3 separate regions of the Homo sapiens genome follow, and all the other regions are linked to region 2. The links come from fine-mapping of genetic effects on gene expression. A gene starts in region 2. Each other region holds a variant in brackets. All regions are shown on one strand. Distances are between the middles of the regions. Region 1 overlaps IPO5 (importin 5). Region 2 holds the start of IPO5 (importin 5). Region 3 overlaps IPO5 (importin 5).

The links. PIP is the estimated chance that this variant, and not a neighbour inherited with it, causes the effect. A credible set is the group of variants that fine-mapping cannot tell apart.
Region 1: its variant is the best candidate, but not a certain one, in a credible set for the expression of IPO5 in whole blood (TOPMed, PIP 0.77).
Region 3: its variant is the best candidate, but not a certain one, in a credible set for the expression of IPO5 in fibroblasts (GTEx, PIP 0.82).

Annotation. Positions count from the first base shown.
Region 1 is chr13:97,991,572-98,002,748 of GRCh38, reverse strand. IPO5 (importin 5) reads right to left here. Exons shown (of 29, transcript NM_002271.6): 10 at 9,735-9,857; 11 at 9,524-9,644; 12 at 5,131-5,218; 13 at 2,104-2,210; 14 at 158-282; 15 at 1-65. Among named protein-coding and RNA genes, the nearest start is that of IPO5, 43 kb to the right of the region's middle. The variant C/A (reference allele first, on the strand shown) is at 4,979.
Region 2 is chr13:97,950,584-97,955,583 of GRCh38, reverse strand. IPO5 (importin 5) reads right to left here and starts at 1,909. Exons shown (of 29, transcript NM_002271.6): 1 at 1,868-1,909; 2 at 1,386-1,465.
Region 3 is chr13:98,024,007-98,035,183 of GRCh38, reverse strand. It overlaps IPO5 (importin 5), which reads right to left. Exons shown (of 29, transcript NM_002271.6): 29 at 10,888-11,177. Among named protein-coding and RNA genes, the nearest start is that of IPO5, 76 kb to the right of the region's middle. The variant T/G (reference allele first, on the strand shown) is at 5,314.

The DNA.
Region 1 (11,177 bases), 44 kb before region 2:
CCAGGTGCAAAATCTGTAGCCATCTGTCCCACGGCATTACAGGCTGCATACCTTACTCTTGGATGCTGGAAAATGTTCCCTTTCATTAGTAAAAGCAAGAAGGTTTCCACATGAAGCTACACTAATCATTTTGAATCAAATATTTACTGGTACTTACAGGATCCTGGAGAAAAAGTAAAACAAAATTTACGATCTCATTTAGAATTCCTTCCATTTGCTGGTGGCACCCTTCACCAATGGCAGATAAGGCCATCAATCCTGCATGCCGGTATTTCCAGTCAGCTACCGAAAAAAATTACAGATGGAATAGCAATTACACACTATAAACATGTCATTCTGGTAGAGGGAGATGTATAAAAGTTCTTATTTGGAAAAGAGTAACAAAACTTTTTTGAAAAGGGTATATGTATATATAATATAAAAACATTTGTATAGGCCGGGCGCGGTGGCTCGCGCCTGTAATCCCAGCACTTTGGGAGTCTGAGGCGGGCGGATCACAAGGTCAGGAGATCGAGACCATCCTGGTTAACGTGGTGAAACCCCGTCTCTACTTAAAAATACAAAAAATTAGCCGGGCACGGTGGCAGGCGCCTGTATTCCCAGCTACTCGGGAGGCTGAGGCAGGAGAATGGTGTGAACCCGGGGGGGCGGAGCTTGCAGTGAGCCGAGATCGCGCCACTGCACTCTGGTCTGGGCGAAAGAGCGAGACTCTGTCTCAAAAAAAAAACAGAAACAAACAAACAAAAAAAACAAAAAACAAAACATTTGTATATTTACTTTTTAGAAAAATGAACAGAAAAAGTGCGTGACTACTTGATTCTAAAAGTATGTATCAGGCCAGGCGCGGTGGCTCACACCTGTAATCCCAGCACTTTGGGAGGTTGAGGCGGGTGGATCACTTAAAGTCAGGAGTTCAAGACCAGCCTGGCCAACATGGCGAAACCCCGTCTCTACTAAAAATACAAAAATTAGGCCGGGTGCAGTGGCTCATGCCTGTAATCCCAGCATTTTGGGAGGCCAGGGTGGGCGGATCACTTGAGGTTAGGAGTTTGAGACCAGCCTGGCCAACATGGAGAAACTCCATCTCCACTAAAAGTACAAAAATTAGCTGGGTGTGGTGGTGTATGCCTGTAATCCCAGCTACTTGGGAGGCAGAGACAGGAGAATTGCTTGAAACTGGGAGGTGAACATTGTAGTGAGCCAAGATTGCACCACTGCACTCCAGCCTGTTTGACAGAGTGGGATTCTGTCTCGAAATAGCTGGGCGTGGTGGCATGTGCCTGTAGTCCCAGCTACTCAGGAGGCTAGGGCAGGAGAATCGCTTGAATCCAGTGGGTGGAGGCTGCGGTGAGCTGAGATCACATTACCCTGGGCAACAGAGCGAGATTCCACCAAAAAACAAACAAATTTCTAACTTAATACTTCTGAATTTTAATTTAACAAAAGAACACATTAACTTTATAATTAAAAAACACAAATGAAAATAAAACACATACAACAATAAACTTTGGGATTGATATATATATTACAGGTACAAAGGTAACTGAAATATTCATAGAAATAAAAAGGAAGGATGGCCAGGTGTGGTAGCTCATGCCTATAATCTAAGCACTCTGGGAGGCTGAAGCAGGAGGACTGCTTGAGGCCAGGAGTTTGAGACCAGCCTGGGCAACATGGCGAAATCCTGTGTCAACAACAACAGCTGCCCTCCAGGGCAGGTGGGCTTCCACCATCACCTCCGTCAGGGGCAAAAACAGAAAGAAAGAAGTGGTTTCTCTTTTGATAACATTAGATAGAGTTTCTTCTTTTAAAAATAAAAGATATTGGGTGAAAGAAGAGTATATGATTCAAACATTCTAATATTCCATAAAAATTCAAATAATAACATCATTTTCAAATTCAAATCTAAATACTTTTGGCTAGGAAGTAAATCTGTACATTTTCTTTGGGATTGACAATTTTATCGGTAAAATAAATGAATTGGGTTAAATATGGATGATAAAAAGACAAAGATTAATTTTTAACAGTCTAAACATATCTTAGAATTTAAGCTTTAGAAAGGGCACAACTTCACTCTTCTAGCATTTGAAGGACACAGCTTACGATTTTGAAGCATTTGCATAATGTGTTCCTTGATCATCGGCAGAACGAGCTTTCCACCAAGTCCGCAAGCCATTCGATCTAGAGCACTCTCGCCTGCAACTGCATTGCTAAACACATAAACAGAATTATGTACTCAATATATCTGAAACACAAAAGAAATAGTATACTCTACAGACATACTTCTAACCATATTATTATTAAACTAAGACTGAGAAAGAATTCAAGCTGTCTTTAAATGTGGAATTGAAATTAGGGGTTAAAAACTCTGCAGCTTAGAAAAGAAAAAAGAGTAAATGTTTTTATCATGATCCACCATAGTTTAGAAAGTCATGCCTGATTCTTATTTTTCTTTTTTTTTTTTGAGACAGAGTCTCGCTCTGTCACCCAGGCTGGAGCGCAGTGGCACGATCTCGGCTCACTGCAAGCTCCGCCTCCCAGCTTCATGCTATTCTCCTACCTCAGCCTCCCGAGTAGCTGGGACTACAGGTGCCCGCCACCACGCCTGGCTAATTTTTTTGTAGTTTTAGTAGAGACGGGGTTTCACCATGTTAGCCAGGATTGTCTTGATCTCCTGACTTTGTGATGCGCCCGCCTGGGCCTCCCAAAATGCTAAGATTACAGGCGTGAGCCACTGTGCCCAGCCTGAATCTTATTTTTCAAGACCACCCCCACCCGCTACTGGCTAAAAACTGTTCTCAGAAATAGCTTCTGACACTTTCAACACTCCAGTAAAAGCAGTATTGAAAGAGCCTCATGTATTTCATTTCCTAGAAATACAGTCTTCAAACCTATCAATGAACAGAACATAGAAAACTGAAAAGGGTGCAGAGAATGTATAATCTTCCCCACTGTGAGTTTATTCACCCTTAAAGGGGTGCAAACTGCACTGCCAAAAACTATGCATAGCTATGTGAAACTCAATTCTATTGTCTTCTCTGAAAGCCAAAGGAATGTGGGCATAAAAGCATTTGGACTTATCCTGGCTTAGAACTGGAGGATCAGTAGTGTATTTCATGTGCATTATCTTTACTATGTAAAGACAATACTATAAAAATGAAACTATAAATTATCTTCAGAACAGGTTTTTAGACTTAAAAAAATCTCACCCTGAAAATATATTTATGCTGTTTCACAAATGAGAAAATCTTATTCATCTAGTTTAGAAAACAAAGTTTCTTAAACTGTATAAATTTAAGTGCCATTTGCAGGGCAAATGAAAGGACAGGTAGCAGCACATTACAGTAACTGAACCAAAAAGGAAATTCGACCTAGCCCTGGTCTTCTCTTCAGCCGTTATCAGGTGATTTCCAGTGAAAGATTACTTTCATATACTTCAAGACAGTATTAAAGCCAGAAATCAGTCATTTTTAACAATGGGATTAAGTCTCAAAAATGCATATATATTCTAAAGCCAAAAATCTTTAATTTTTACTTTTATTAACCTAGTAGTTTATACTGACTCCAAGTCTTTCAGGAGAATAATTTCAGCTTTTTATTTTTTTTGAGATGGAGTCTTGCTCTGTTGCCCAGGCTGTAGCGCAATGACGTGATCTCAGCTCACTGCAACCTCCACCTCCCAGGTTCAAGAGATTCTCCTCGCTTAGCTTCCCGAGTAGCTGGCATTATAGGTGTCTGCCACCAGGCCCGGCTAATTTTTGTATTTTTAATAGAGACGGGGTTTCAACATGTTGGTCAGGCTGGTCTCGAACTCCTGACCTCAGGTGATCTGCCTGCCTCTGCCCACCAAAGTGCTGGGATTACAGGTGTGAGCCACTGCACCCAGCCAATTTCAGCTTTTTTAAAGAAAAGGTGGTAGTATAATGCACTGGGAAGAATGAAAACAATGGTAATTAACCCCAGTCCATTAACTGGCTACATAACCTCAGACAAATCACTCAATCTTCAATCTCCCTTTCTGCAACTGTAATATAATACACCTCTGGGACTGCTAATAAAGTTGATTAAAGTAACAGAGCTCAGAGGTGCTATGTTTCACATACATGTAAGGGGCCATCATTACTACTGCACAGTGAATACAGATTTTGGTTGACTTTTCCTGTATTCATGGGACTTCCTAAGCTGAAATAAATAAGTACAATAGTAATACTCTACCCAGTTGACTCTCATCTTTTCACCACTGGATGCTGCCTATCCTAAAGTTAAACTGCTTTTTACTAGGAAAATATGATGTGTATTGCAGGGAATTTTGTTGAAACAATTATTCTAAGGGAAGTCTCTGCCTGTAAAAGCATTTATCACAAAAAAGCTGCTTTATACACGTTTTAAAAGATATTCAAACTAAAAACAAAAACAAAAACAACAAAAAACTTGGAAATAATTTAGAGTACGACAGTTAAAAACATAGATACTTGGCCAGGTGCGGTGGCTCACGCCTGTAATCCCAGCACTTTGGGAGGCCGAGGCGGGCGGATCATGATGTCAGGAGATCGAGACTATCCTGGCTAACATGGTGAAATCCCGTCTCTACTAAAAATACAAAAAATTAGCTGGACGTGGTGGCAGGTGCCTGTAGTCCCAGCTACTCGGGAGGCTGAGGCAGGAGAATGGCGTGAACCCCGGAGGCGGAGCTTGCGGTGAGCCGAGATCGCGCCACTGCACTCCAGCCTGGGCGACACAGCGAGACTCCGTCTCAAAACCAAACAAAAAACATAGCTACTTTATTTGCTGTTTTCATGTCATACTTTTTTTTAAAAAAGAAAAACTTCCTTGTTTGTTGTTGTAGGTATCTTTCAGTTCCTGATTATAAAATACAACTTTATGTATTAACTATTAAAATATTTTTATGAACTTCCAAGAAACATAAATTTTATTAATATAAATTATACATGAAAACTAAAGAAAATACTACTTATAA[C/A]ATGTGACACAGCAATAAATACAACAGCAAGGCAAAGTGCCCCATATTCCAGGCTTAAAAGTTTACCTTCAGGTTACAGGGTGCAATAGTGAAGAGATGGACCGTGGAGCCCTAGGGCTTTCACTGCCACCCTGGACACAATGTTTGATTACCTGTCAAAATCATCATCTTCTAGTTCATCTGCATTTGCCCAGTCCTCATCTTCTTCCAAATCAACCATCATTGCTAACATCTGAGGAACTAAAGTAAACAATTATTTCATACCCGAAGACTGTGACTTTATCTTATCCATATCACTATTTATAAACAAGAATTTTAAGATTTTACTTTGCCTGTAAGAGAACAAGACAAAACAATTATTTGTCTGTGCCCCCAAAACCTGGTTTGTTAAATTTTAACCTTGTTATATTTGCTTTTATCGTTTCTTTAAAAAGCAACATTCATTAAGTCAAACCCTCCTATGAAATTCCCAAATCCGATTACATTCTCCCCATCACCAGAGGTAAGAAGCAACATCACAAATGTTTCTCATTCCGCAATTGTTTTTTCACACTTGAACTACAGATTTCCATATCTCTATACAAAATTATAGTACTATTTCAAGATTTGATTTTTTATATAATAAATGGTTTCATAATATATGTACCTCGGCAATTTGCTTTTTTCTCAACACATAAGGATTTCAGTTTATTTAATAGCATTCCATTATATAAACATACTACCCACTGTCTAGCTGATAAACATTTTGGTTGTTTCCAATTTTTTCCTCCTATAAAATTTGCTTTGATGAGATTATTACATCTTTTCTTTGACAAGCATGAGTCTAGGCATGAAATTGTTATTACTATCTTCAAATAGTACTAAAAAATTATCAAACAAGTCTAGGCGCGGTGGCTTATGCCTGTAATCCCAGCACTTTGGGAGGCTGAGGCAGGCGGATCACGAGGTCAGAAGATCGAGACCATCCTGGCTAACATGGTGAAACCCCAAAAACAAAAAAATTAGCCGGGTGTGGTGGCGAGCACCTGTAGTCCTAGCTACTCAGGAGGCTTAGGCAGGAGAATGGCGTGAACCTGGGAGGTGGAGCTCGCTGTGAGCCAAGATCACACCACTGCACTCCAGCCTGGACGACAGAGCGAGACTCTGTCTAAAAAAAGAAAAAAAGAAAATTACCAAACAAGCTGCGCTCTGCACAGCTGTTGCATAAACTATGTGAAGTTTAAGTGGAGGTCTCCGTTATTTCACAAAAATGTGTGAAGTGCCCTGGGGGTGGAATAAGCGTCCTCTCAGTTCCACATCTTTTATTAACAATTGATACTGTCAAACTTCTGGACAACTTGTATTCCACAATTACACTTGTTTTTATTGAGACTTAGCAGGGTTCATTAGCTATTTCAGATCCCTCTTTTACGAATTTCCTGACTGGGCCTGCTGGTGCACACCTGTTATCCCAGCACTTCGGGAGGCTTAGGTGGGAGGATCCCTTGAGCCCAGGAGTTCAAGACCAGCCTGGGCAACATGGTAAAACCCTATCTCTACCAAAAAACACAAAAATTAGCCAGGTGTGGTAGTGCGTGCCTGTAGTCCCAGCTACTTGGGAGGCTGCAGTGAGCTGAGATCATGTCACTGCACTCTAGCCTGGATGACAGAGCAAGACCCCATCTTAAAGAAGAAAAAAGCAATGAATTTCCTCTTCTCAGCCTTTGTGTATTCTCTAGATAACAAAACTGTTGATTGTGTGCACTGTAATTATTTTCTTCCAGTTTGTGGCTTATTTTTTCAGTTCATTTATGGTGTATCTGATTGGTCAAAAAATTGTTTTCGCATTTGCCAATTTGGCAATGTTTACATCAATGGTTTGTGATTCAGTCTTAGAAAATTATCTACTATTAAGCATTACTTGTAAAATATATCTGTAATATTTAGCCCTTAACTTTTTTAACTAGTTCCAGCGTGCAAGGTAATATTCAGGTCTTGAGTAGACCCCAAATTATTATTATTATTATTATTATTTTTGAGACAGAGTCTTGCTCTGTTGCCCAGGCTGCAGTGCAGTGGCGGTATCTCGGCTCACTGCAAGCTCTGCCTCCCGGGTCACGCCATTCTCCTGCCTCGGCCTCCCGAGAAGCTGGGACTACAGGCGCCCGCCACCACGCCCGGCTAATTTTTTGCATTTTTTAGTAGGGACGGGGTTTCACAGTGTTAGCCAGGATGGTCTTGATCTCCTGACCTCGTGATCCACCTGCCTCGGCCTCCCAAAGTGCTGAGATTGCAGGTGTGAGCCACCGCGCCCGGCCTGTTTTTTTAATAAGCTGTCTAGAGTTGGAATTTTTTTCCCCATAGAAATAACCAGTTATATTCTCAACTCATAAGTGGGAGCTGAGCTATGAGGATGCAAAGGTGTAAGAATGATACAACGGACTTTGGGGACTCAGGGGAAAGGGTGGGAGGGGAGTGAGGGATAAAAGACTACACAATGGGTACAGTGTACACTGCTCCCGTAATGGGTGCACCAAAATCACAGAAATCACCACTAAACCAAACACCACCTGTTCCCCATAAACCTATTAAACAAACAAAAAAAAAAAAAACAAAGAAAGAAAGAATGAAAGAAAGATATCCCAGAAACTTTTTTTTTTTTTTTTTGAGACAGGGTCTCACTCCGTCACCCAGGCCGGAGTGCAATGGTGCAATCTTGGCTCACGGCAGCCTTGACCTCTTGGGCTCAAGCAATCCTCCATCTCAGCCTCCTGAGTAGCTGGAACCACAGGCGTGTGCCACCATGCCCGACTAATTTTTGTATTTTTGGCAGAGAAAGGGTTTCGTCATGTCGCCCAGGCTGGTCTCAAACTCAGCAGCTCACATAATTTACCCACCTTGGCTTTCCAAATTGCTGGAATTACAGGCCTGAGCCAGTATGCCTGGCCCCAAGAACTTTTGATCAATTATCTTTTTAAAAATGGCTTTGTTCCCATGTGAGCGGATCTTCTCCTACACTCTACCCTTTGTTCCATCCGATCCATTGTCAACACCTGCATCATCAATGCATTCTAAATTCACAGAGTTGATGAAACAAGATCTCCACTTTATTCGTCAAAATTGTCTTGGCTACTCCAGGCCCTATGTTCTTTCAGAAGAATTTCAGGATTGTTCTATCATAACCCTAGATTAATTTGAGAACTGATAATTTGTTCTTCTATTAGTCTTTCAATATGTTATTCAACTTTCCCATATGTCTTGTACATCTTTTGATTTATTCCCAGTTACTATAACTCATGCCTATAAAATTTTCTAAATGATTATTATGAATAATGGAACACTTACAATAAAATGTTCTCATATCTAAGGATCTTGCTTAACCCTTTGATTAGCAGTTTATCTGTTGAGTCTTTAAAACTTTTTGTAGACAATAACCACATAGCCTACAAATAAGCAATATTTTTGTTTTCTAATTCTTTTTTTTGAGACGAGTTTCGCTCTTGTTGCCCAGGCTGGAGTGCAATGGCATGGTCTGGGCTCACTGCAACCTCCACCTCCCGGGTTCAAGCAATTCTCCTGCCTCAGCCTCCCGAGTAGCTGGGATTACCGGTGTGCACCACCACATCTGGCTAATTTTTTGTATTTTTAGTAGAAACGGGGTTTTAGCATGTTAGCCAGGCTGGTCTTGAACTCCTGACTTCAGGTGATCTGCCCGCCTCGGCCTCCCAAAGTGTTGGGATTACAGGCATGAGCCACTGCACCCAGCCATTGTTTCTAATGCTTATAACTTATTTTTATCTCTTAATGCATCAGCTGGGGCAGTCAGTACAACATGAACAGTGATAAAGGAGATATTTTTCTTGTTCCTGACTTAAATGGGAATGTTTCTAAAATTCCAACCACTACCTCAGTGTAAGACAAAAGGTAGGTACCACTACAAAATAAATCTGGTGACGTATTTACCCTCTAAATTAAGTGTTCAAGTACTCATTAGCTCATTAAGAAATGGCTAGGCCAGAAAATGATCAGGTTAGTTCTCAAGTCCTTATCCCAGCACAATGAAACTTAAAGTAGTATTTCCATAGCACAATAGCCATTTAAGTTTCTGCTGCAACGAGGGTCTATAAAACAAAAGCAATGTAATATAGTGAACAGAGCCATGACTAGTGTTAGACCTTGTTCTTCTAATCTTGGCTTCACTGGTAAGCAAGACATGCTATTTTGGTTTGTAGTTCGCTACTGTGCATCTATATATCCCCGCTGAATTGTTTTTGACTCTATTAACTGTGCCCAATATTAACATATAAATGATAGAGTCTGTCACACTCCACTCTAGAAATGTTATTTTTAACACCAGATTTCAGGGTGTCTGCAAAGTCTTAAAGGCATAACCACAATGTGGGGGTCCACGCTTGCATGTATTGAGATGCATTTTCCCAAATTCATCTGATTCTAAAAGGATATTCATTATATTCTCAACAATCTGAGAAATCACACAACCCTCAGCAAATTTATCCAAAAATTTGGCCACAATACACATAAACTATCTGAAGACCATTGACTTACTAGTCTGTGCAACAATATTGGTATGTTTTCTTAACATAGCAGCTGCAGTCTCAGAGAGGGTGACGATCACTTCAAGGGCAAGCTGGCGTTGCATATTGTTGAGGCTAGTGTCTCCACACAACTACAAAGAAGACATATTTGTATACATTTAATAATTTAGATTAGTCCCTGAAAATAACAAACAGAACGTTTACTAACGTACTTAATTTACCTTTAGACTTAGCTGTAGAGTTGCTTCCAAGTGAGGACGCAAATACTTTGGAACAGTATCTGCAATCTCAACGAGGGATTTTAGGACAGAATCATCATTCTGGTAGCACGAGTCATTTACCGCCTAGAAAAGATGAAACAGAAAGTCGGTGCTGAAGATTCACTTTATAATGCCTCATTAGCCAAAAGATTCCTAAGATGCTGACAATAGAGAAATATTACTAAACTATTTTTCACTAAATAATTTAGCAATCTATATTATGCAAATGTTCTACCTGCAGGCACATGTATACCTTCCTTCTGATGGATGTTAACTAGAAACATTCAAAACAGATTTACATCTAAGTCAAAATGAAAATCAGTGAAACTATAATAACCATTACAATACTTAAGGCTACCAAGGAATTACTTTTTTTTATAACCAGGAGTCCCTTTCCTTTGTCCTTTTATTTTTTCAGTGATAAGGTCTCGCTCTGTCGCCCAGGCTGGAGTGTGGTGGCACAATCATAGCTCACAGTACCCTCCAACTCTTGTGCCTCAGACTCCTGAGTAGCCAGGACAACATGTGTGGCCACCACACCTGGCTCTTCTGTCCTTTCTTATATCCATGCCCTAGTTTTTCTCATACGCATAGTAAGTACTAGAACCTGTAATACATTTAAAGTGTCCAATATTACCCATTTTATTTATCTTGGATGTTAAGTCTGGTCACTGTGGTATTAAAGTATGCATTTTGTGTTTATCATTATCTATTTCAGAATAACAACTCTTAAAAGTTGTGGTAAACATTTTAACTTACTCTAAATCCAGAGGAAGAAAACCGGGATTAGATTTCAACAGTAACTAGAGATTTCAGATAATAAACTACTAAAGCAATAGTATGTTACAATTTATGTTCTGTCACGAAACTATCTTTTCATTGTGATAGCAGGGGGAGAGAAGTTTCACTAAATCCTTTAAATAACTTATCATGTGGAAACCTTCAATTTTAGCTCCTCTAAATCCTCTCTAACTCAGTGGTTCTCAAGAGGAATGGTTTTCACCCAGGAGATATTTCTTGATGGTCACACGATTGAGGATGGGCAAAGGCCATGGATACTAAATGTCCTGCACCTGTGACACAAGCACAAGGGACTTACATGATCTTCTCATTATGCATTTCACATTATTACAAATCCCAGACATTTATAAAAAGGAGAAAACTCTTTATAATGATCTGAACCTAGAAACTAACTCACAAATTATTTTTTGCCTGGTTTTAACAACTGTTATCCCCCCCTCCAATGTAACTACTGTATCAATCAAGAATGGATACATACAGGTGGAACATCCCAAATCCAAAATGCTCTGAAATCCTCAACTTTTTGAACACAGACACGTCACTCAAAGGAAATGCGCATTTGAGTATTTCGGATTTCTGACTTGAGATGCTCAACTGGTAAGT
Region 2 (5,000 bases):
CACAGGCCACTTAGGCTTGCTTGCCCTGAGGTGAAATTGTTCTGGAACTCTGGGATTTCAACTCTTATATTTCTGCCTGTGTTTTGGAAGTGTTTTCCCCGCTCATTTTCTCCATCAGACAGTGTCATTTATTGTAGCTGCCAACATAAAATGACAACTGTCTCCACTTGTCAGCTGCTCTCATCATCTGGTTTGCTGTGTGCTTTGGAAGGCAGATGACCAAGCATGTATGAACTAGGCACAAGAGTATATGAACTCAGCACAGAGAAGACAGCTGAGGATATTTCCTGTAGAGTAGCATGCATGAACTTTATAAGGTATTTGGCCACTTAGGTATTTTTCTTTTTTTTTTTTCGTGATAGGGTCCCACTCTGTCACCCAGGCTGGAGTGCAGTGGCACAGTCATGGCTCACTGCAGTCTTGACCTCCCCAGCTCAAGGAATCCTCTCACCTCAGCCTCCTGAGTCCCTGGAATTACAGATGCATTCTGCCATAACTGGCTACTTTTTTCTATATTTTGTAGAGACAGGGTCTCACTATGTTGCCTAGGCTGACCTTAAACTCCTAGGCCCAAGTGATCCTCCCACCTCAGCCTCCCAAAGTGCTGGGATTATAGGTGTGAGCCACTGTGCCCGGCCGGTATTTTTCATTTGGAGGTTTATAATTGCATTCCAGAGTTTTAACTCTACTGGAAAGCTAACACAATGTTCCAACACAAATCTGTCTCGCATACTAGTTAGTGTCTTTGAGGTTCCATCACAGACAAATGACGGAAGAAAGCAAAACTGTTTAGGAAGGTCTAAATTAAACATTCTATAATAAAGGCATTAGCATTTGACAAGTCCCTGGTATCTAATACTTTATAAGATGACAATGAGCCTTTTTTACCCCTAGTTAGGGGATTAAGTTCTAGGAGAAGAAGTTAACCAGGTGGTTCCTTAAGTAAGTAATCTTTTGACTACTTAGGGATTGATTTTGTTTTCCCATAATGAAAATGAATTCTGTTTTCCTTCATTTACTTGACTTTAGTGATCTCTGAAAACTAAGATAAAATATACTCGGCCTCTGAGGGAATACAACCATAATGTACAGAAGACAAAATAGATACTCTAAAGATTTTAAATGGAACATCTTGGGATTTGAGAAATTAAAGGCAGTGAAAATCATACTGCTTCTAAGCACTTTTTATTCTCCCTATAGGAAAGCAGGGTAGATAATCCTGATGGGTTGGATTTCAATTAATTGGTGAATAGAAGGTAAAATGATCAAGAAACAGATATCATAATTATAGGAGAAAATAGCAGGAGCTTTTTGTTTTAAAGGAAATAAAGAATAGAATTCACAGTGAAGAGAGACAGAACAAAATCTGATAATTCTAGACTCACTTGAGTGCCGCAAGTATCCTGATCAGGGAAAACAGTTGTGCCTACACATGGGTCCTGGAAAGGCTTCTCCCCGGAACCACCTAAGTGAAATAAAAACTGATTTCTGACTGTTTCAGGATGGCAACACAGACCTTTAGGATAATAACCCACATTCTTTTGGGCAACTCTAATCAAGTGATGCCTCCTTAAGGATACAGAGTTAGTCCCCAGCTCACGTAAGGCACAATACCAAAGAACAATGAGCCATCATGAAATCGTCATTGTTTCATACTTGGTTTTTGTGTAGAATGTTCTCCAAATCATTGTCTCTGACGTTTCCTTCCTCTTGGGTATGACTGTGGTGACGTCAGGAGACGAGCTAAAGGGACCTCCTGGATCTCACAGGGAAACTCTTTCCCTCCAGTATCACGCTAAATTGTTCCTCAGTGCAGATGAAATTCTTAAATGGTTTCATCTGAATGTGAGGTTTTGGGATGACTTACTGTGGTCAGAGCTGTTCCCGGCTGCTCCAGTTGTGGGAGGTCATCAATCCCACAGTTCTGACCTCCTGGCTCAGAGACGTCACCGTGGAGACACCTGGCTGCTATTGTGACACGCAGGAGGTCAGCTGGCTCCTGCTAGTGGGCATTTACACTGCCCACCCTGCCAGCTTCACAGGCCCACACTGCACAGGCATTTAGACGTTACAGGGTAGCCCAAGCTCCCAAAGCTGTGGAAAGGAAAGGGAGCTATCTATTGGCCTTTGAGAACTCAAAACCCATGTTGCTGGGGGCCACTCAGATTGGGTACAAATGTGTCATCAAATTCAGTTTTGAAACTGTCTGAGTAGCTTCTTTACCCACAGATTTTGATTCTATTCACTACTCAATACTGAAAAGAGAAATTGATCTCTCAAATAGACAAAGATAAATTTGTATGGAAACAACAGGAAATTCCATATTACATACGTTTATGTCAACTGGGTTTGTGATTAAATTACTTTTTCTTTTATTTTAGTTGACATGTAATAATTATAAATATTGGCTGGGCGGGGTGGCTCATGCCTGTAATTCCAGCACTTTGGGAGGCCGAGGTGGGAGGATCATTTGAGCTCAGGAGTTCAAGACCAGTCTTGGCAACATGGCAAAACCCCATCTCTATGAAAAATGCAAATATTAGATGCGTGTGGCAGTGCACACCTGTAGTCCCAGCTGCTCAGGAAGCTGAAGTGGGAGGATCATCTGAGCCGGGGGAGGTTGAAGCTGCAGTGAGCTGTGATTGCACCACTGCACTCCAGCCTGGGCAACAGAGTGAGACCTTGTCTCAAAAAATAAACAATAAAAAATTGCAGATATTTATGGGATGTAATTAAATTTTTATATGACAGATTAACATCAATTTTGCCCTGTATTCTCATGGATCTCAATGCCCTAGCTTTGTACATTTAGCTTTTCTTTTTTTTTTGAGACAGATTCTCACTCTGTTGCCCAGGCTGGAGTGCAGTGGCGTGATCTCGGCTCACTGCAACCTCCACCTCCCGGGTTCAAGAAATTCTCCTGCCTCAGCCTCCCAAGTAGCTGGGATTACAGGTGCCCACCACCATGCCCGAATAATTTTTGTATTTTAGTACAGATGGGGTTTCACCACGTTGGCCAGGCTGGTCTTGAACTCCTGACCTCAAGTGATCCATCTGCCTCGGCCTCTCAAAGTGCTGGGATTACAGGCATGATCCCCTGCGCTGGCCTAGCATTTTGTTGTTTTTATTAATTCAGATCATTAATTAAAGCCAAACTCCATTTTTGTAATTATTTATTTCTTTTTTTTTTGATACAGAGTCTCTCTCTGTTGCCCAGGCTGGTGTGATCTCAGCTCACTGCAACCTCTGCCTCTCTGGTTCAAGCGATTCTTCTGCCTCAGCCTCCCAAGTAGCTGGGATTACAGGCACGCGCCACCATGCTCGGCTAATTTTTATATTTTTAGTAGAGACGGGGTTTCACCATGTTAGCCAGGATGGTCTCGATCTCCTGACTTCGTAATCTGCCCACCTTGGCCTCCCAAAGTGCTGGGATTACAGGCATGAGCCAACGCACCCGGCCTATTTTTGATTTTTAAATTGTTTCATAGGACATGGGCAGACTCCTTTGTATAGGTCACATTTTTTTCTTGGTAACGTGTGATGTCTAAGCACTTTCTAGTGTCACCCCGCATATCCTGAAAGTTCTTCAGCACTATTCCTTGCTTCTTCGTCCTCATCCTATGTCACTGGTTCTTTTTTTGTTTTTGAGACAGGGGTCTCATTATGTTACCCAGGCTGGTCTCGAACTATGGGCTCAAGAGATCCTCCTGCCTCAGCCTCCCAAGTGGTTGGGACTGCAGGAGCTCGCTACTGCACCTGACTTCTAACATTTTGGCTTGTGGGCAGGTGTCTTCATGGCATTTTGCTCAAGCATCTTACCAAGGGTCTGATACCAGAATTTACATAGATTCAGAATCAGCGATTGAATGGTTACAAGGTTACTGCAAAATGTATGAAGAACATTTTATTTAGTTACGTATTTGTTTATTTTTTAGTTCTTTTTTTAGAGACAGTCTTGCACTGTTACCCACCCTGGAGTCCAGTGATGCAATCATGGCTCACTGCATGCCCCACCATACTTGGTTAATGTTCTAAAAAAATGTTTGTAGACGTTGGGGGAGGGTCTCACTGTGTTGCCTAGGCTGATCTTGAACTCCTGGCCTCAAGTGAGCTGGGAGCACCTTGGCCTCCCAAAGTGCTGGGATTACAGGGGTGAGCCATTGTGCCCTTCCTGAAGAACATTTTAAAAGAACAAATCCGAGAAGTTTCTCCAGTGCCTATGACATTGACCAGTTGCTTGGTGTATTAGTCTGTTTTCATGCTGCTGATAAAGACCGTGGCTGGGCACAGTGGCTCATGCCTCTAATCCTAGCACTTTGGGAGGCTGAGGTCAGGAGTTCGAGACCACCCTGGCCAACATGGCAAAACCCTGTCTCTACTAAAAATAGAAAAATTAGCTGGGCATGGTCGTGGGTGCCTGTAGTCCCAGCTACTTGGGAGGCTGAGGCAGGAGAATCACTGAACCCAGGAGGTGGAGGTTGCAGTGAGCCGAGATTGTGCCACTGTACTCCAGCCTGGGTGACAGAGCAAGACTTGGTCTCAAAAAAAAAAAAGAAAAAAAAAAAGACATACCTGAGACTGGGTAATTTATAAAGAAAAAGAGGTTTAATGGACTCACAGTTCCATGTGGCTGGGGAGGCCTCATAGTCATGGTGGAAAGCAAAAGATACATCTTACATGGTGGCAGGCAAGAGAGAATGAGAACCAAGTGAAAGGAGAAACCTCTTATAAAATCGTCAGATCTCGTGAGGCTTATTCACTACCACAAGAACAGTATGAGGGAAACTGCCCCCATGGTTCAAATATCTCCTACCGGGTCCCTTTCACAACACACGGGAATTATGGGAGCTACAATTCAAGATGAAATTTGGGTGGGGACACAGGCAAACCATATCACTTGGTTTTTTGGAAGGTGCCAGCAGACCTGACTGCACTGGCTGATCCTTGGGCATTCCAAACCTACACCAAAGACAGGATTTAGGGGAATATACATTGATTTC
Region 3 (11,177 bases), 77 kb before region 2:
ACCTGTATTTTAGGGTAACAGTTCTTTTTTTCATATTTTCTAATATTTATCCTCAATGTTTCCCTTAATCCTACTATGTTATTATTTGTGGTCCTAAAACTCTCAAGGTTTCTCCAAATTCTTACTCATTTGCTTACCATATTGTAGCAGGCCATAATTCTAGTGGGAATATGTGGAATCTGGAATCTCAATATTGCCTTAAGTTTGGGTGCCGTGGCTCATGCCGATAATTCTAGCACTTTGGGGGCTGAGGTGGGAGCATTGCTTGAGGCCAGGAGTTTGAGACCAATCTGGGCAACACGGCGAGATTCCATCTCTACAAAAAATGAAAAAATTATCTGGGTGTGTCGCTACATGCCTGTAATCCTAGCTGCTGGGAGGCTGAGGTGGAAGGATGGCTTGAACCCAGGAGTTTGAGGCTACAGTGAGCTATGATTGCACCACTCCAGACTTGGGTGACAGAGTGAGATCCTATCTCTTAAAAAAAAAAAGTATGGGTGTGGTGGCTCACGGCCACAATCCCAGCACTTTGGGAGGCCAAAGTAGGTAGATCACTTGAGTCCAGGAGTTCGAGACCAGCCCAGGTAACATAGTGAGAAACGCTGTCTCTACAGAAAGCATAAAAAATGAGCAGGGCGTGGTGGTGCACCTGTAGTCTGAGCTATCTGGGAGGCTGAGGTGGGAAGATTACCTGGGCCTGGGAGGTCGAGGCTGCAGTGAGCTGTGTTCACGCTACTGCACTCCAGCCTGGGTGATAGAGTGAGACCCTGTCTCAAAAGAAAAAAGAAAAAGGCACTTAAAAAATAACACTAGATAATCAAATAGCTATTAATTATTTGTCACGTTAATGACTGCATTTATTTGGCACTGAATGTATAGAAAGGTTTCTAAAGTATCTCCCAATTAAAAATACTTTCAGGCCAGGTGTGGTGGCTCATGCCTATAATTCCAGCACTTTGGGAGGCTGAGGCGGGTGTATTGCTTGAGCCCAGGAGTTCAAGATTAGCCTGAGCAACATACTGAGACCCCTGTCTCTACAAAAAACAAAAAAAAATTAGCCGGGGGATGTGGCCATGCCTGTAGTCTCAGCTACTCGGGAAGCTGAGGTGGGGGAACCGTTTGAGCCCGGGCTTATAGACATTGCAGTGAGCGGAGGTCGTGCCACCACACTCCAGCCTGGGTGACAGTGAGACCCTGTTTCAAAAAACAACAACAAAAATTTCAAAATAACTTTAATTAAATAATAGCTCAGACCTCAAGCCTTACCAATTTTATGTTGTTAGTGAGATTATTTTCCCCAACAAGGGAGGGGGATCAGAAGAGACAGTACAAACGCACTAATGATTAACCCAGGACGGGCTTCGTGGGAGACACACTAATAATTAACCCAGGATGGCTCTGTTAGAGAATCATTTGTACCTTTCTTGCCCCTAGGGTTCTATTGTTCATGATGAGCTTCATTCTCACCTGTCTGCCCTCTGAATTCAGTTGAGCATGGAAGGATGAAGGCAGGGCCCTGACCAGCAGCTGAAACGGCAGCCGCGCCGTACACCTGGAGAGAAGTCCTCAGCTTTGACGCATTTCTCATCTAATTGGTATATTCTTTAGAAATGCTTCCACATAAGCATTTTTCCCTCAGATGGTGAAGCTCCAGAAGCCGTCGTTCTCTAACTTTTTAAAGCAGTGAGTGATGCTCCTCTGCTGCCCCCTCAAGGTTCTCAGTTTTCTCCAGAGAGAGGCTTATTTATTTATTTATTTATTTATTTGTTTAGTTTTGAGACGGAGTCTTGCTCTGCTGCCCAGGCTGGAATGCAGTGGCGCCATCTCAGCTCACTGCAACCTCCAATTCCCAGGGTTCAACCAATTCACCAGCTTCAGCCTCCTGAGTAGCTGGGATTACAGGTGCCTGGCACCACATCCAGCTAATTTTTGTATTTTCAGTGGAGACGGGGTTTCACCATGTTGGCCAGGCTGGTCTCAAACTCCTGGGCTCAAGTGATCTGCCTGCCTCAGCCTCCCAAAGTGCTGGGATTACAGGCGTGAACCACTGCGCCTGGCCAGAGAGACACATTTTTATTTTTATTTATTTTTTTTGAGACGGAGTCTCGCTCTATCGCCCAGGCTGGAGTGCAGTGGCGCCATCTCGGCTCACTGCAAACTCTGTCTCCCGGGTTCACGCCATTTTCCTGCCTCAGCCTCCTGAGTAGCTGGGACTACAGGCGCCCGCCACCACGCCTGGCTAATTTTTTTTTTATTTTTAGTAGAGACGGGGTTTCACCATGTTAGCCAGGATGGTCTTGATCTCCTGACCTTGTGATCCGCCCGTCTCAGCCTCCCGAAGTGTTGGGAATACAGGCGTGAGCCACCGCGCCCGGCTGAGACACATTTTTAAATAACCAAAAAGGCCATTCAAAATACAATATGAAAACCACACATAAGCTGCTCAGAATACAAACTATTGATAGTCTGAATTATGAAAAAAACCCAGTAATAAGACTTTCCATATACTGATTTTGTGGGGTGGCAATTGTCTTTCCTGTAGCATAATTCAGGGATGATGAATCCTTAAAATATATAATAAAAAACACATTTTGCATTTTCAGATAAAAGAGCAAAACTTTTAAAATATAATGTTCTTAGGTTTTAAGATAATCACAGTATAAATCAGTCACCACAAATTCCATTTATTATTTTACTGTGTACACTATCAACCTTTCTGTTACATTTTTGTTCTGAGATAAAATAACTTAGTAGACACCGTAGATGCTAATTTTTAGAAATTGCGAAACTCTCCTTTTCTTAAGGGAATGGAGATGTAAGGTACAAGGGCCAGGCAGGCCTTCTGCTGGCTCAGCACAGCACAGGGCGTCTGCCCGTGGTTCCCAGGCCTTCTGCATTCCTGTCCACACTCAATTCTCTCAGCAACCATACCAAGGAGGCGTTTCTCCATTTCCCAATGAGTGAACTGAGGCAGAAAATGATGTTAAGTCCACTTTCCAAATCCAGAGATTTGGAAATAGAGAATATACATGCAATTCAAATTCAGGCTGGGGCCAGGCGCGGTGGCTCACGCCTGTAATCCTAGCACTCTGAGAGGCCGAGGTGGGCAGATTGCCTGAGCTCAGAAGTTCGAGACCAGCCTGGGCAACATGGTGAAACCCCGTCTCTACTAAAGTATAAAAAATAAGCTGGGCGTGGCGGCATGTGCCTGTAGTTCCAGCTAGTTGGAAGGCTGAGGCAGGAGAATCACTTGAATCTGGGAGGCGGAGGTTGCAGTGAGCCGAGATTGTGCCACTGCACTCCAGCCTGGGTGACAAAGCAAGACTCCATCTCAAAAAAAAAAAAAAAAAAAAAGAACAACAACAAAAGAAATGACTTTTGAGCCAGGCTGGGGTGAAAGAGAATAGTGGGGCCAATTTACCAAACATTAATTTGCCAAAAGCTATGTTACTAAAAGATCGATTTGCCCACTATCCATGATCTGAATTCACCAAATGAACTGATTAACTAAAACTTGTTATAATGAATTCATTTCTTGAAAATATTAAATGAACATTTCCTCCTTGAATACATTGTTTTCTTCTTACGAGTATGTTAAGGAATGTTTAACTTGTCAAAACTGAGGATCACAGAGTAAAAAATGTATTTTTCTTATTAATTTACTCATAAAAATATACACATCGAATACACTAAATAAATTGTTGTGTACATTTAGTATCTGTCAAGATTTAATCAGAAAAACAGAGACCATACTAGGTATTTCAAACAGGGATTTAATAGAGCAAACTGGTCATACAGATGTTAGAAGGATGAGAGAGAGAGAGAAAAATAAAAGAGAGGCAACATATTCAGCCTTAAAAAGAAAGTTCTGACCCATCCTGTAACAGGATGAACCTTGAGGACATAATGCTGCGTGAAATAAGGCAGACACGAAGAGACAGATACCGTATGCTTCCACTTAACGCGAGGTATCTGGAGTAGGCAAACTCACAGAGACAGAAAGTAGAATGGGGGCTGCCAGGAGCCTGGGTGGTGGGTGGGAAGTTACTGTTTAATGGGGAGAGTTGGCAGAGACAGATTCTTCTTGCTGACTGAGCCTTGTTCATCCAGTCCCACAGAGTCATTGTATCTCTTTAAACTAAGTAGAACAAAACTTCTGAGAGACATATTTGCATGGCTACCCTCCGCCAAGAAAAAGGATTTCCTGAACTTCCATCATCAGTATCATCTGCATGATTTTTGCCACGTCCTCAGAACTGTAGCTCTGTTTACATTACATTAAAAATAAATCAACTCACTGACTTTTATTTTTTTTGAAGTGTTTGAAAAGAAAATTTTAAATCATTACTACAAACGAAAAACTGGTATTTGTTTTTGTTTTGGAGACAAGAGTCTCACTCTGTCACCCAGGCTGGAGTGCAGTGGTACAATCATAGCTTACTGCAGCCTGGAACTCCTGGGCTCAAGCAATCCTCCCACCTCAGCCTCCCAAAATGCTGGGACTACAGGGCTACAGGGATGAGCCACCGAGCCTGACTCATTTGTCATAAATAGAAGGTAACCATAAAATAAATGTTAAAAACAGAACAATGTTATTACATTTAAAAAAATAAGCAATTGTTATAATTTATAAAAACGCATACTTGAAAATATGCTCCCCAATGAGAATAGAACTTCATATGCTGAATTGTACTAAAGGAGACTTGGCCCAATGCCACTTAGTTTAAGATGAAATGAGGTTCTAACTCAGTATGGTGATGCTATTCTCAACATTTTGATGATCACCAGCACTGGCCATACTAATTTATAGGTTGTCATTTATTGAAAAGGGCAAAAGATATTTAACTTCCATCTTTTTTTTTTTTTGTATTTTTTTTTAGTAGAGACGGGGTTTCACCATGTTAGCTAGGATGGTCTCGATCTCCTGACTTCGTGATCCACCCGCCTTGGCCTCCCAAAGTGCTGGGATTACAGGCGTGAGCCACCGCGCCCCGCCAACTTTCATCTTTAACAGGGTTAAATTTTGAGAATTCCCAGCTAAAATGATTTAACTTTTATTCTGAAAAGCCTCCTGAATATTTATATCCCTAGAACGATACATAAGAATTGATCATCTTTCCTTATGGGAGGACGTTTTAAAAAAAACCCTTTTCAGATAATTTAGTCAAGAGTGTTATAAATTTACTTAAATTTCAAAGATTTTGTTGTAGAGATATTTTAGAGGCAAAAAATAAATGTAGTTAATCATTGTTGACTTTTTTTTTTTTTTTTTTTTTTTGAGACGGAGTCTTGCTCTGTCTGTCGCCCAGGCTG[T/G]AGTGCAGTGGCGCGATCTCGGCTCACTGCAAGCTCCGCCTCCCGGGTTCACGCCATTCTCCTGCCTCAGGCTCCCAAGTAGCTGGGACTATAGGCGCCTGCCACCACGCCCGGCTAATTTTTTGTATTTTTAGTAGAGACGGGGTTTCACTGTGTTAGCCAGGATGGTCCTGATCTCCTGACCTCGTGATCCGCCCGCCTCGGCCTCCCAAAGTGCTGGGATTACAGGCGTGAGCCACCGCGCCCGGCCTCATTGTTGACTTATATAATGTCTGGTTAAAGAATTCAGGTTGGGTTAACCAGGTGGGCAGTTGGTTTCTTAGAATAGTTCCTACCCATCAGAAAGACATGTAGGCATTTCATTAATTTCCTTCCAGAAGGAGGTCTCTGCCCATCGCCAGTCTCCACATTAGTGTTGCTGTTTTGTATTTTTATTCTTCTTGAAATATCAGCTACAATGTGAGCCTTTGTTTTTTGGCTATTGACCATTTGTAATAATGGCAGCCTTTTCCCATGAGAACCAATTGGAGAACACTCAAGATAGTGATGGGCTATATTTTTCTTCAAACACATCTATCTTCTTTGACCCTTCAGTAATAAACTGTACATTCTTTTTCAAATTAGAAAATGCAATAGGGTCCTAACTGCTTAAATATTTTCACTTTCAATATTTCTTAATCAAAAGGGACTTTATTTAAATGGCTTTTTTTTTTTTTTTTGAGACAGGGTCTCACTCTGTCACCCAGGCTGGAGTGCAGTGATGCAATCATGGCTCAGTGCAGCTTCAGCCTCCCAGGCTCAAGCTATCCTACCACCTTAGCCTCCCAAGTAGCTGGGACTACACACCTGAACGACCATGCCTATTTTTTTTTGCATTTTTAGTAGAGATGGGGTTTCTCCATGTTGCCTAGGCTGGTCTTGAACTCCTGGGCTCAAATGATTCACCTACCTCAGCTTCCCAAAATGTTGCGATTACAGGTGTGAGCCACTGCGCCCAGCCTCAATGGCTAAATTCTTTTTTTTTGTTTGAGACGGGGTCTCGCTCTGTCACCCAGGCTGGAGTGCAGTGGTGATCTTGGCTCACTGCAACCTCCGCCTCCTAGGTTCAAGAAATTCTCCTGCCTTGGCCTCCCGCCACGCCCAGCTAATTTTTGTATTTTTAGTAGAGACGGGGGTTTCACCATATTGGCCAGGGTGGCCTCGAACTCTTGACCTTGTGATCCACCCACCTTGGTCTCCCAAAGTGCTGGGATGACAGGCATTAGCCACTGGGCCGGCTGGCTAAATTCTTAAAACTAGATAAAACATGCCAGTTAATCCCTAAATCATAGAAGATTTGAGAAAATTCAGGAGTGTGATTAAGCAGCAGCAGCACACTCGGGACAGAAACAGACACACCAAACAAGACCACATACCCCATTAGGAGATTTCTAGGAACGGATGAAACAAGACAGTAACTGCTCTGGGGGTTGGGGCCAACTTTCTAAATGGCTACAAATAATCTGGCAGGTTTTCTTCATTGCCAACCCAATTGTCAGTTAATTGAAAGGGGACTATCTCATAGCAATACTGCCCCTAGGAAGGATCTGGGTTTGGGTGTAAGGCAGTTTGGGAGACCAAAACTTCCTGCTTGCCTGTCTGGCTCCTTCACCCTCCAAGGGAGCACATCCGGTGACCTGTCTGGTCACAAATGCCCCACTCTGGGTCACCTCTGCAGCAGCCCAAGAACAACCAATTGTGAGTAGCAAGGCTGGAAAATGCATCACCTGGGGAGGGATTTCTCAATGACCAGGAGCACATGTATTTTTATCTTTGGTGCAGTTTGCTATAATGCTGAAACTGAGGCAGCTCAATGCACATCCTATTTGCAATATTAAGTGAATTTACTTCTTTGATTTCTTCATCAAAGGGTACACCCAGTGCACCCTTTACTTTTCCTTAATGATGTGTCCCCTGTAGCAGAGACCATGTGTTTTACTCAGCCCTTTATTATGCAAGCCTAACGTAGTTTTGGTCAATAGCTTAATAAAAGTCAATCAAATTCTTGATTAGCAAGTACTTCCGTTTTCCATGGTTTGCATGTTTTATGCCATAGGTAACTAATTTGAAAATTGTCAGAATCAAAATGGAGTCAGTCACTAGGCCAGACTCGGTGGCTCACTCTGTACTCCCAGCACTTTGGGAGGTCAAGGTAGCTGGATCATCTGATGTTGGAAGTTCGAGATCAGCCTGGACAACACAGTGAAACCCCGTCTCTACTAAAAATACAAAAATTAGCCGGGCATGGCGGCACATGCCTGTAATCCCAGCTACTCACGAGGCTGGGGCAGGAGAATCACTTGAACCCGGGAGGTGGGGGTTACCGTGAGCCAAGATTGCGCCACTGCACTCCAGCCTGGGTGACAGAGCAAGACTCCGTCTCAAAAAAAAAAGGAGTCACTAATGTTAAGAACACCCGGACAAACAGCTAGAAAGGTCATAGAGGGTTCTCATGTTTGTACGCATGATGACAAAGACCACAAAAATCACAACTTTGCACAAAGGCCTTTGCAACCTCACACAAAAAATACTTCTGCAAGCACACATCCAACTGCTTGTCAACCTTGGACTGGCATCACCCTTGTTACTGACCTGTGCAGTCAGGGATAATTATCTCAAAACAACGATGTAATCCTCATTTCTTCCTTTATAAACCTTTCTCTTTTCGCCTGTAATCTCAGCACTTTGGGAAGCTGAAGCAGGACTACTTGAGCCCAGGAGTTCAAGAGCAGTCTGGGTAACATAGGGAGACTCTGTCATCACAAAATTAAACAAAACCAAAAAAACCCACAAAAACCTTTTTTTCCCTCAATATACTCATCATCTATGATGGCATGTACATTCCCATTGCAATGCTCTACTCCCAAATAAACGTTTTCTTTTTGAGATCCTCTTTTAGGTTGACACTAACAAAAAGAAATGCTATCCAAATGTACTTCCATCTCTTCAGCATGTGTACTCATAATATCAAATCTACAATGCTAGGCACTGCTCTAGGTGCTTTATACATATATTAAGCCTTACAACAACCCTGTGTGGTAGCCGTTAACTTTATGTAAGAGATTAAGGAGCTCCCGCAAGGGGCCACAGCCAGGCAGGAAGTGTGACCCCAGGGGGCAAAGCTTTCCAGCTGTCCACTCCTGTACAATGGCCTTGACAGTGATCTCATCCTACATAGATGCCAGATTCATGTGAGCATGGGGGCAAAAGTCCCTGGTGACCTACAGTTCAGTGTACCGAACAAACCAGCTCTTGCAGCAAACTGAATGTCTTCTCCAAACAGGGACAGACTGCTGCTTTTTAGGGTGGAGCTCCAGATGAGGCAATGGGTGCATTTAGGGCCATGTCTTATGCAGATCAGGCATCTTCAAACACCAGAATCACAGTGTCAAGAAAGTAAAATAGTCCACATACACCACGTTTATGGCACAACTTCACTGACTTTGCAAAGTTTCCCAATATTTTCCACAACTTTCTAGGCTTCCTCCTAATGCCAAGGCTGATTAGAGAACTTGAAAAAAAAAAAAAGTTTGCAGCTGGGCACCGTGGCTCACACCTGTAATCCCATCACTTTGGGAGGCCGAGGCAGGCAGATCACGAGGTCAAGAGACCATCCTCACCAACATGGTGAAACCCTGTCTCTACTAAAAATACAAACATTAGCTGGGCATGGTGGCTCACACCTGTAGTCCCAGCTACTCGGGAAGCTGTGGCACGAGAATCACTTGAACCTGGGAGGCATCTCACTTGAACCTGGGAGGCAGAGGTTGCAGTGATCCGAGATCGCGCCACTGCACTCCAGCCTGGTGACAGAGGGAGACTCCATCTCAAAAAAAAAAAAAAAAAAAAAGTTTGCTTAAATTATCTGTAAGTATTAATAGAATTTAGGTGTAATTCTGATAGCTAATGCTTAATGTGCCTGGCTTCTAAATCCATCTGAACCCTCTATAAGGTATGTACTATTATTGTTCCCATTTTACAGAGAAGGAAACTAAGGCATACAGAGGTTAGGTAAGCTGAGTACATGGTAGACTGGGATTTTTTAACTGACACAGTGATTTGATTCAGAGGTCAGCAGCTATGGCTAGCCTCTTTTGTCAAGTTTCACTGGGATACAGCCAAACCCGTTTGTTTACTATGGTCCATGACTGCTTTCGCACTGCAACGGCTAAGCAGTTTGTGAGACCCTATAACTTGCAAACACATACTTGTTCGGTGACGAGTGCTAAAATATTTACTATCTCGAACTTAGAGAACACATTTGCCAACCTCTGGTCTTAACCATACAGCACCATGGTCTTTTATGGTGCACCTTAGGATCACAGGAGCAAGTTGTCGGGCTGATCCAAACTCTTACATTTTCTACCCATCTGTTACAAAACTTTTAGGGGAAATAGGGGAACTAATTTCTGATTCATATCAAGTGGCACTATTCTGGTTTCCATTACAATCTGAATGCTAGTCAAGAGGACAGAAATGATAGATCAATCAAAAGGAAATACACAATGAAAGCTCCTGAATCATGAAAGAACAGATTTCATAATTATACTCTGCTGCCTTAGTGGAATTTAGAAAAAATTTTTTGTAATGTTTTACAAAAAATTATATTGTACCACTTTTGGATTCATTGAGAAGTGAATAATATAGCTATAATTTATCTTTAAAATGTTTGTATTCATCCAAATATAATAAATACATAGAAATAATCAGCCCAAATGTTGTCTGGCATACACTGTAAGGGTTACAGCTGTGTGGGGAAAAAAGGGTTTAAGTCTAGGGCAGGATGTTGTTAGAATTAACCCCTGCTCCTCAGCACCACCATTCAGAAGTTCCAAGTGCTGGAAATAAATATTCATGCTTCCTCCCAAGTGTGATGTGCATACATTGTGGATCATTCACTTTCTTCTTCTAATAGTGGTACTCATACTTTTAGGGCCGAGAAAGAAAATCTGCTTAGGAATAGCAAACATGGCAGGTTTTGGCTGTTAATCTTTTGTGGCAAAGAAGGTTAAGAGAAGCAAAGTGATTTCGTTTTTTTTTTTTTATTTTTATTTGAGATGGAGTCTCACCCAGTTGCCCAGGCTGGAGTGCAATGGCACAATCTCGGCTCACTGCAACCTCTGCCTCCCAGGTTCAAGTGATTCTCCTGCCTCGGCCTCTGGAGTAGCTATGATTACAGGTGCCTGCCACCACACCTGGCTACTTTTTGTATTTTTAGTAGAGATGTGGTTTCACCATGTTGGCCAGGCTGGTCTCCAACTCCTGACCTCAGGTGATCCGCCTGCCTTGGCCTCCCAAAGTGCTGGGATTACAGGCGTGAGCCACCGCGCCCGACCTGCAAAGTGATTTCTGTGCAGCAGAGAAAACTGACCCAACAATCCTCCTAGGCAGAATGAAGCAGTTATTAAAACATTTAGCTAGCTCCTTAGCCTTTCACGTTGCTTAAACAGGCACTCACTCAAAAGATTAGATCATAAAAATATAATGCTTGCAAGACTGTAAGTAAGCACCCCCCTTATTTATTATCAGACCAGGTGCACCAAGACCATTTATTTGCTTATGTCTTTACTGATGGTTCTGTCAAACTACAACTCCAGAGTTATAAGGTTGCCTCTCATTACAGAAGTGTCAATTAGATTTAAGACAATTTTACTTTTCTTTAAAGATACAGCATTTAAAAAATACTCCAAATTGAGTTATGCCAAAGTTTCTAACACTTGTGCGTGTAACTTGTTACAAAATTCCCAGAAAACGTAAGAGCCACACACATTTTTCCCCTCCAGAAATAGCTTGCATTTATAAACAATATATATCACTTGCTGACA